2 separate regions of the Homo sapiens genome follow, and region 1 is linked to region 2. The links come from fine-mapping of genetic effects on gene expression. A gene starts in region 2. The other region holds a variant in brackets. All regions are shown on one strand. Distances are between the middles of the regions. Region 1 overlaps USP13 (ubiquitin specific peptidase 13). Region 2 holds the start of USP13 (ubiquitin specific peptidase 13).

Evidence for each region. PIP is the estimated chance that this variant, and not a neighbour inherited with it, causes the effect. A credible set is the group of variants that fine-mapping cannot tell apart.
Region 1: its variant is the best candidate, but not a certain one, in a credible set for the expression of USP13 in thyroid (GTEx, PIP 0.67).

Annotation. Positions count from the first base shown.
Region 1 is chr3:179,670,500-179,675,879 of GRCh38, reverse strand. All of the region lies in intron 1 of USP13 (ubiquitin specific peptidase 13), which reads right to left. Among named protein-coding and RNA genes, the nearest start is that of USP13, 20 kb to the right of the region's middle. The variant C/T (reference allele first, on the strand shown) is at 2,106.
Region 2 is chr3:179,650,081-179,655,460 of GRCh38, reverse strand. USP13 (ubiquitin specific peptidase 13) reads right to left here and starts at 2,421. Exons shown (of 21, transcript NM_003940.3): 1 at 2,068-2,421. The coding sequence starts at 2,235. It also overlaps the pseudogene H3P13. RefSeq lists an enhancer at 1,948-2,591 and silencers at 2,260-2,599, 2,610-2,689.

The DNA.
Region 1 (5,380 bases), 20 kb before region 2:
TAGACAGCTCTATTAAATTAAAATAGATTACAGGCTGGGCACAGTGGCTCAAGCCTGTAATCCCAGCACTTTGGGAGGCCAAGATGGGCAGATCACTTGAGGCCAGGAGTTCCAGACCAGCCTGGACAACATGGTGAAACCTCATTGCTACTAAAAACACAAAAATTAGCCAGGCGTGGCGGAACACGCTTCTAGTCCCAGCTACTCAGGAGGCTGAGGCAGGAGAATTCCTTGAACCCGGGAGGCAGGGGTTGCAGTGAGCTGAGATCATGCCACTGCACTCCAGCTTGGGCAACAGAGCGAGACTCCATCTCAATAATAATAATAATAATAATAATAATAAAATAGGTTACAGATAAAACTCATATAGCATTGGGTAAATTTTTTTAAAATATTAATGGTAGCATAAGAATGGAGGCCCCACAAATATATTCATTCTAAGATAACTATTTAATATATGTCAAATCACAGGAGATACAAAAATGCAGAAAAGAATCACCAATAAAAGTTACTAGGAAAATTAACATCAGTATAGAAGAAAATTAACCTAGATCTACAACTTATACGAAACATGGTAATAAAGTCCAAATAGATCCAAGAAATAAGCAATTACAAAACTAAAAAGAGCAGACTCATATATTCAGCCCACTTTTAAAAGGGAATGTCAACATTCAAGTTCAACTTAAGAAATTTTTTTTTTTTTTTGAGATGGAGTGTCACTCTGTCGCCCAGGCTGGAGTACAGTGGCGTGATCTCTGCTCACTGCAAACTCCACCTCCCGGGTTCACACCATTCTCCTGCCTCAGCCTCCCGAGTAGCTGGGACTACAGGCGCCCGCCACCATGCCTGGCTAATTTTTTGTATTTTTAGTAGAGACAGGGTTTCACCGTGTTAGCCAGGATGGTCTCAATCTCCTGACCTTGTGATCGATCCACCTGCCTCGGCTTCCCAAAGTGCTAGGAAAGAATTTTTTAAAAAACCATTTAGTTTCCAATGTGAGAAAATATTAAAATCAAACCATCACATCCTCACAACCCCCTTAAGTAGGCATATTAAAACAATCTCAAGGCACAGGTACATGCCTCATAAACCAGCAAAAACTGTTAAAATTGCACAGCCTGAAGCCACAGAGAAAACCCGTATATCCTCTCCTACAATATAAATCGGCTCAGCCTTTCTAGAGAGCAAAAAAACAGTGACCCTTTGGCACAGTATTTCCCCTCTGGGTACAGGCCCGAGAGAAGAATTAAAAAAAAAAACTAATTTGTGCAAAAATATTCACACATGCAGTATCTATAATAAAATAATGTAGCAATGGCCCCAAATAGAGGAGTTAAGAAACTGTGACATATAAGCACAAGAAAATACTGCAACATTATTTAAAAAGACAAAGTTATGAATTGTGTGTAATGAGTCTTGCTTGGTCTACAGTGGTGCTTCTCCAACTATTGTCACGATGGATGAGGTTGTTTTTGTTTTTTGTTTTGTGTTGTTTTCATTTGTTAAGGAAAGACACATGTTCCCACTGCACATGACTAGTTCAAAGCTCCAGCCAGATATGGTCTTACTCACCACACACCTTAAGTTCCACAAAACCCAAACTGGTCTATGTCCTGGGCAAACAGATCCACTGGTCACACACTTGGCTGTGGCTGCAATGTCAAGTTGCTATACAAATCTCAAAACAGGCCGGGCGCAGTGGCTCACACCTGTAATCCCAACACTTTGGGAGGCTGAGGCGGGTGAATCACCTGAGGTCAGGAGTTCGAGACCAGCCTGGCCAACATGGAGAAACCCCGCCTCTACTAAAAATACAAAATTAGCCGGGCGTAGTGGCACATGCCTGTAATCCCAGCTACTCAGGAAGGCTGAGGCAGGAGAATCGTTTGAACCCGAAAGGCGGAGGTTGCGGTGAGCCAAGATCGCGCCATTGCACTCCAGCCTGGGCAACAAGAGCGAAACTCCGTCTCAAGAAAAAAACGAAAGAAAGAAATCTCGAAACACTACTCTTAGTGTTGTACTCATCTCTCAGCCCAGTCAGCTGACACACTTTAGGTAGCACTTGTCTAGGGCTAGGTGAACTCGGCCCAAGTCTAAGAGTGTCT[C/T]ACCCGCCAGGAAAGCATTATCTAAAAGACTTTCAGGACACAAGGTCAGGCCTGCAGCCTTCACAGCAGCCCCATCAATGCCTCCTCACTGCAGGCGCTTCCCAAACGCCACACTCTGCCAGTCTCTGCCCAGGAACTACTCCCACATCTCCCTGCTCAGCCCCTCTTCTGACAGTCCTTGACCCTAAATCTGCTTTCATTTCACAATCAGTGTCATGCTCATTGAAATCTATCGCTATGAGAAACCCAGGCTTCCTTGAGTTTGCCGCCAGTACCTTTAGAAGCTGAAATACACATTTGCTCCTTGAAGGCAGGAAAATTGTATCATTTATTGCTGAATCCTAAAAATAGTACCTGGTACAGGGCAGGGGGGGCAGGAAAACTGTGTCATATTCACCACTGAATCCCAAAAACAGTACCTGCTACAGGGCAGGATTGAACAAACTTTTGTAGGATGAATGATAGTTTTTGTCTCCACTATTTGTTATTGGGTCTCTCTCTCTCAAACTATTCCTCAGTGCCCTTCTGATCTGAATTTAAAATGCATCATAATACAGCTTCCACTTAAAGTCTCTGGCACGACTAAACAATGGGAATTCTCAAAATAAAACTCATGGCCACGCATAGAAAAACAGCCTGAGGCACCAGCAGAAATTCTAGCTTTTCAGGTTTGTTTGGCTGAAGTCACTCTTAGCAGCCTGGACACTTGAACCCTACTGCCCCAGCTCTCCCACCTGCTGTAACCAAGCCAGTCTCACATGGTTCTTCAGGAAAGTGGCTGCCTTCTCTGCACCACCGTCCCACCTTGGATCCTACCTGCCTCCGGTGCTCAGAGGACACCCAGCCCAGAATGACCAATGTGCAGTTCTGTGCACAATCCTAAGCTAAATAGGATTCTAATGATCATTTTTATGATGCACTAACCAGAAATTTGACCAAGATGCAAGACTTTGACATCCAAAATCAGAAGAAAGTCAAGAAATACTGCACAGGGCTCTATAATGATTTCCCTTGACAACTTCTCCAGCCCCATAATCAAACGGTAAGAAAGGAGCAGCACTGGCCGGGTTCAGAGGCTCACGCCTGTAATCCCATCACTTTGGGAGGCAGGTCAGGAGATCAAGCCCATCCTGGCCAACATGGTGAAACCCCATCTCTACTAAAATACCAAGAAATTAGCCGGGAATAGTGGTACACACCTGTAGTCCCAGCTAACAAAAAAATTAGCCGCGCATGGTGGTACACACCTGTAGTCCCAGCTATTCAGTAGGCTGAGGCAGGGGAATTGCTTGAACCCGGCAGGCAGAGATTGCAGTGAGCCAAGATCGCGCCATTGCACTCCAGACTGGCAACAGAGCGACACACTGTCTCAAAAAAAAAAAAAGAAAAAAAAAGAAAAAGAAAGGAGCAGCATTAGAAGCCCCATGTATTGTTAAAATCCTGTCTTCAATGCATTTCAATATACATACAGTATATACTTAGCCATTCATTTGCTACTTTGTATTGTATCCCTCTATGTACTATTCAGAAATAACATCAAAGACAAAGTCACTGATTTTATATTGCCTGCCGTTTAAAAGAATGTTAAAACGGTGGCAAATATAAAGGTCAAGATTGCAACATGTTTCAGAGTAGCAAGTGAATAGTCATTTTAAATAAAAATACACTACTTTGTCAATCGGTAGGTGTTCAGAGAACTTTGTTTATGATGATGTTTTCTTGGCAACCAGCCTTCCCACTGGAAGACAGGAAGGGAGCATGAGCTTATGTGAGCAACGCGCTCAGGAAACAGTCGCTGCGTAACACTTGTTTTTATAACTACAGAACAGTGTCTCCTGTGGAAAACAAGCGGTCATTGCTGCAAAGAGAAACATGATGTAGGTAGATGGAGTCACAACAAATCCACGCCAGGACAAATCACATACTAACACCGCGGGAAGACGGTGACTCACACACCCTTGGAAAAGGAAGGCCAAGAAGACCAGAACACCGTATTTTCTAGAACATCGACTCAAAAAAGAGCGGACAGGAAAAAAAAATTAACCAAATGAGCTGCTTGTAATTATAAAAAGAAGTAACCCAAATGGCCAAGAACAGATTTGCCAAATAATTTATGGTACCTCCATGAAATGTAACACTCTTCAGCTATTTAAAATTGACTTGTGGATGAGTATTTACTGATAGAAAAATAAGTACATAGTATTTTTGGGCTAAGAAAGCAGGTAACAAAACACTGTGTATGATGTTATAATATACATGACATGCACACTCTTCCTGGCGTATGTTGTTATCTCAGCATGGGGAGACAATGTGGGAATTTTTTTTCTTCCTGTTTTCTTCTGGTATTTTTAAATTTCTCTTCAGGAACATAGATTCATTTTTTAATTAAAATATAAATAAAAGTTTTTTAACTGAATGTATTTAGATATGCTCCCTTTTCTCAAACCTGGCTTCCCAACCACACAGCTTTATGGGGGCTGTATATTCCCACTACTCAAAGTAAAGCATGGTGGCAATAACTTGAGATTTTAATTTTTTATCTTTGAGAGAGTCTCACTCTGTTGCCCAGAAATGCAGTGGAGCCATCTCTGCCTCCCGGGTTCAAGGGTTTCTCCTGCCTCAGCCTCCCAAGTAGCTGGGATTACTGGTGCCCACCACCACACCTGGTTAATTTTTGTATTTTTAGTAGAGACGGGGTTTCGACATGTTGTCCAGACTGGTCTCGAACTCCAGATCTCAAGTGATCCACCCATCTTGGCCTCCGAAAGTGCTGGGATTGGCCGGACATGGTGGTTCACACCTGTAATCCCAGCACTTTGTGAGGCCGAGACAGACGGATCACCTGAGGTCAGGAGTTCGAGCCAGCTTGGCCAACATGGTAAAACCCCGTCTCTACCAAAAATACAAAAATTAGCCAGGCATGGTGGCACACACCTGTAATCCCAGCTACTCGGGAGGCTGAGGCAGAAGAATCGCTAGAACCCAGGAGGCAGAGGTTGCAGTGAGCGGAGATCATGCCACTGCACTCCAGCCTAGGTGACAGAGCGAGAATCTGTCTCAAAAAAAATAAAAAAATAAAAAAATTGCTGGATTACAGGCATGAGCCACTGCGCCCGGCCAATAATTTGATATTAATAAGAGAATATCTTGAGATTTGTAGCTGAGGAAATTCAGGAACAAGTAAAATAGAGGTGATACGGCGTGTAACCTCAGGGAGGCAAATGAGACTGTGATTACAACTGGGAAAAATGAAACTAATCGGGAACACTGTACTC
Region 2 (5,380 bases):
TTCATCAGCCTTGTAAATAATCCCAGTCTCCCCTAAGGAACTGCTGTGATATGATTGCAATCATCAGTCTACACTGGACGAGATGTTTCTAGAATAGTAACATTCTAGAAACACACACAGTAAGCTCCCAATAACTATTTGTGGAAATGAATTAAAACAATCAGCCTTTTTTCCCACACCTGTTATCCACTGCATTATGCAGCAAAAACTTCCAAGAGCAAAGTTTGTAAGCAGAACTTGAAGAAGAGCCCAAATCAAAACATGGGGAAAGTCATTTGACCCACTTTCCATGTTGTGCTATCCTAAAAAACTTAGGCCACTTTCTTCTTCCTGGAGGTAACAATCTGTCAATTGCTTAAGTTAGGACCATCATCCCTCTCCACCTTTAGAAGCTATTAGTGGGAACTGCCCAACACTGGCCATACAATCTGAAAATGGCATTTTCAAATAATTTATGGATAACATCCTAAAAAAGGACTGCCGATTGTCACACTCCACTCTGTGGATCTTTTCGAAAGAAAAAAAAAGTAAACAATCAAAAATTAAGTTAGGTTTCATCCCTCAAATGATATGGAGTTACCATAAATAAAAAAACTAAATGTCACAGAGAGGATACTAACTCTGATACTCCAGTGTGTGTCGAGCAAAAGTGCTTTGAAGCCAGCCAAAATCAACCCACAGATAATAAAGGAAACTTTGGAAATGTTGCCGCTCATTTGGACTTTTCTTTTCCCCTCTGACAATAGTCCACATGCTATGAATAAAATACATTAGACCATTGCGAGACCTGCCTCGGTCCATCCAATCCATGCGCCTCCCAATGCATTGAGATCTGCCGGGTGACATATGAGATCTAAAGTGGGTGGATAAAAATAACCTGGTCCTCAAAAAGACATGATAAACGCCAGACAGCTGAGTCACTTTGAAGCCCATTTTGACTTTTGAAAGGGACATTCACCCTCCTGCTGCTTCTCACACATTCACATAGAACCAGGTGAAAACCACCACCAACCGCCCCGGGTGGAAGGCGGCGATCCCTCTCAGCTTCCTCCTCATTCTCCGAGGTCACGACTCGGGATTGAACTTTTAATAATTTATACTTGCGCATGTCAGTCCAAGTGACTCATTTAGAAGGGCAAGGTGGGGAAGGCTTAAGAAAACCATCGCAATCCAGTAGATCCCCTATTTCTGCTGCCCGAGTGGAGGCACCGGAAGGTTTCGTCTGACATTTTTTTTTTTTTTTTTTTGAGACGGAGTCTCGCTCTGTCGCCCAGGCTGGAGGGCAGTGGCGCGATCTCGGCCCACTACAGCCTCCTCCTTCCCGGTTCAAGCGATTCTCAAGCCTCAGCCTCCCGAGTAGCTGGGACTACAGGCTCCCGCCACCGCGCCCGGCTAATTTTGGGGTTCTTTTTTAGTAGAGATGGGGTTTCGCCATATTAGCCAGGCTGGTCTCGAACTCCTGACCTCAAACGATCCGCCCGCCTCCGCCTCTTAAAAAGTGCTAGGATTTCAGACGTGAGCCACCGCGCCTGGCCCTGACATTCTAAAGACAAGAAAAGGAGTGGGGTGAAATGGGAACTGGTGGAAGAAAAGCTCAGAGAGCAAATCAGAATTGTCCAGAAGTGGGGATCCCTGAGCAAAGCAAGTGGTCCCAGAAAAAGAAGGGCTGTGTGTGTCCCGGGGTGTGGGGGGATCATCCCGTCCACCTACCCGCCCTGCGCTCTGCCCCGCGGAGGACGCAAACGATCTGCAACGTGCAGTTCGGAACAGGGAACTCTTGTATTTCATCTATCTTTAAACGGCGGCGGGGCTGTGTGCAAGCTGCTGGGAATCGGGCCCTTCCAGCCTGGGGAGGCTGGCGGAGCAAAACCACCAGCACGAGCCAGTCCTCGGCTGCAGCAGCCCTGGGGCGCTCACTAAGTGTCTGCCGAACTGCAGTGTTCCTGAGCCAACTCTGCCGCCCGGAGGAAGAGAAGAGGTCCCGGCCGCCACTGCGCATCTTCTCCCCCGGCTTCACGTGCCGCAGGCCGCCGGCCCCGCGACCCTCCCCCGAGGCGCCTCACTTACGGGAGAGTCGTAGGAGAAGGCGCACTCGTTCTTGTAGACCCTGTCGCCGGACCTGGGCACGCGGATCGTGGGCATGTGGGGCACTAGCAGCTCGCCGATGTCTCCTGCAGCCATCTTCCTGCCTCCGCTGCCGCCCGGCATGCCGAACAGGGCGCCCCGGCGCTGCATGGCCTCGGCGCGCACCGGAGCCGAGCGAGCCGAGCCGGAGCCGGAGCGCGGGGTCTGCCGGCGGCGGCGGCGCCAGCGAGCGGGCTGACGGGCGGGCTGCGCGGGCAACGGCAGCCGGCCGAGCCGGGGCGGGCGGGGAGAGCGGGCTGCGGGGCGGGAGCGGGCACCGCGGGCTTGGGGCGGACTGGCGACGCTATTTTTAATCCAATGGCGAGTCTCCGGCCCAGCTGCAGCGTCAGGCGGGGCTGGGGAGCGCCAGCCGCAGCGTGCCGGGGAGGGGGCGCTGGAGAGGGGCCCTGCGCGTGGGCCGGGCGCGGCGGCGGGGGGCGGAGGGCGAACCCCTGAGGCGTTGGCGCGGGAGCTCGAGCGGGCTGGCGGCCGAACGCGGCGCGGGAGGGCCCCGGGAAAACACCACGGAGGTGTTTTCTATCCCGAATTGTTGGCTTGCAGAGGGGCAACTCCGAGGAGGCCAACACAAAGAGCAGGATTGGGGGTTTTAAAAACCGCTTGCTTTTAAAACAGCCGAAGACTAGGGCGGTGACGTCCCCGGATTGGATAGGGGCGGGACTCGATGTGCAAATCTGAAATCTAACGTGAGGCTTAAATCTAAATTTGCGCCATGCACTTCAGTGCTTCCCCACTAAGCTTCGTTCCTTACTTTAACATCCAAGGCTCAAAAATAGAGCGAATAGAATAAGATCGAGTGAGGATAGAGGGTGTGTGTGTGGGGGAGGGCGGGGTGTGTGTGGGAGTGTGTGTGTAATAATAATACAGGTTTTCTTACATATTGGGGGAAGTCAGGGATGGTCAAGATTTTTTCAGGGCGTCGGAAGGCTTTCTATTTTTCTCTGCCTTTGGAGTATCTTCTATGTGATTCAAAGTTCTCATGTCGAACATTCAGTGGCCTGATTTGAGGATTTTGTAGGCAGGCATACATATTCCTGTCTTGATCATCAGTTCCTCAAAATAAATGATGAATGGGGTTGGCCTCGGGGGTTGATCATTTGCAAGCAGAGCATGTCTCCCAGCATACTCTCATTCTCTCCAAAAAACCCACAAGACGGGTTCAATGACATTGAGGTTCTCTAACTACACCCAACATATGTATTCATGACAGAGTATCCAGTGATCCCTGCCAGTTAATGAAATGCAGAAATAGCGAGAAATAGTGAACCAAAACGCTAATTTTTGTAAGCCTCTCTCAGATCAGATAGTCCTTAAGTTCTTTTTTTTTTCTTACTTTTTTTCTCTTTTAACTCTCCCTGGTTCTCCAGACCTATCTCAAGATTTCCATACCCTCAAGCAAGCCTCGAGCGCACCACACTTTCTTATAACTCAGCACTCCCAAATGCTATCTGTTGGAAAAGGAGGAGGTGGCACTGAGCAAAAAATCAGACACTACTGTCATCTTCCTCATTGGGCAGATCCTCTCAGCGAGCTTTTGCTTTGAATTTAGTCTCATCAGCTTATTACCTTTCACGTTAATGGATGATGTTTTCTCCAATTACAGAGATAAACTTGGTTTTACAAAACTTAAAATTTAATCTTAGATTAAATACAAATTAAATCAGTGAGACACTGTTTTTCATCCTTTGGGCTGGTAAAGATATATTGAGTTAGCATGGGTTTGGGAAGTAGACCCTCATTACATTGTTGGTGGGGATAAAAACGATAAACCTCTTTGGAAGGAAATGTAATAATACCAGTCATAACTTTATATGTGCATACTGTTTTCCCCAGCATTTCCTTGTCTAGACATTTATGCAACAGATAAATTAAGGCTGTGTAAAGATATTTGTTAGAGCACTGTTTCGAGTAACAAACGTCTGGGGAAAACCTAAAGATCCTTCTGTAGAAAGTGGTTAAAATACAGTACCATTGAAAAGAATGAAGTTGCTCTACGTGTGCTGATGTGGAACAATCTCCAAATTATTACTAGATGATAAAAGCAATTTAAGCAAACTAGTGTATAAAAGCAAGGAATACATGCAAGGCTGATAATATGCAGTAGGCATTTTGGCACATCCTATATACCATGGGCCTTCATTCCAGTTGGTTGTACTTGTAGTAAATATTTTTAATGTAGCCCCTTAAAATATACATATGTGTATGCATGCCCACTTGTTTGGCTTTAGGATGTCTCTAGAGCAATACACAAGAAACTAGTCAGGCTCTGTGGAGAAGAACTGAAAGCCTGAGGTTAAGGGAGAACTTACTACCTGGTATGGTAGGGCTGTGTCCCCACCCAAATCTCATCTTGAATTCCCACGTGTTGTGGGAGAGACCCAGTAGGTGGTAATTGAATCATGGGGGCAGGTCTTTCTCGTGCTGTTCTTGTGATAGTGAATAAGTCTCACAAGAGCTGATGGTTTTACAAACGTGAGTCTCCCTGCACAAGCTCTCTCCAGTTGTCTGCCTCCATCTGAGACGTGCCTTTCACCTTCCACCATGATTGTGAAGCCTCCCCAGCCACATGGAACTGTAAGTCCAATAAAACTTTCTTTTGTAAATTGCCCGGTCTCAGGTATGTCTTTGTCAGCAGCGTGAAAACAGATTACTACACTACCACTTTGTAGCTTTCTGTATGATTCCATTTGTATTATGTGCAAGTATTGCTTTTTCCCCCCCTTTCTTTTTGGAGATGGAGTCTCCCTCTGTCGCCCAGGCTGGACTGCAATGGCGCGCTCTCAGCTCACTGCAACCTCCGCCTCCTGGGTTGAAGCGATTCTCCCGCCTCAGCCTTCCAAGTAGCTGGGACCACAGATGCACGCCACCACGCCAGGCTAATTTTTTGTTGTTTTTTTTTTTTTTTTTTTGTAGAGACGGGGTTTCGTCACGTTGGCCAGTCTGGTCTCCCACCTCGGCCTCCCAAAGTGCTGGGATTACAGGCGTGAGCCACCGCGCCCGGCCTCAAGTATTGCTTTAAAAGTTAATTAAAACTCAGCCATCGCTCTCCAACACCAGCGCCGCCTGTCACTCGCCACGCTCCAGCAGAAGAACGGGTCTAAGTAAGGAGGTCACTATACCATGGCTGGTACAAAGCTGACTGCCCAAAAATCAATTGGTGGTAAAGAACCCAGGAAGCAATCCCAGCACTTTGGGAGGCCGAGGCGGGTGGATCACGAGGTCAGGAGTTCAAGACCAG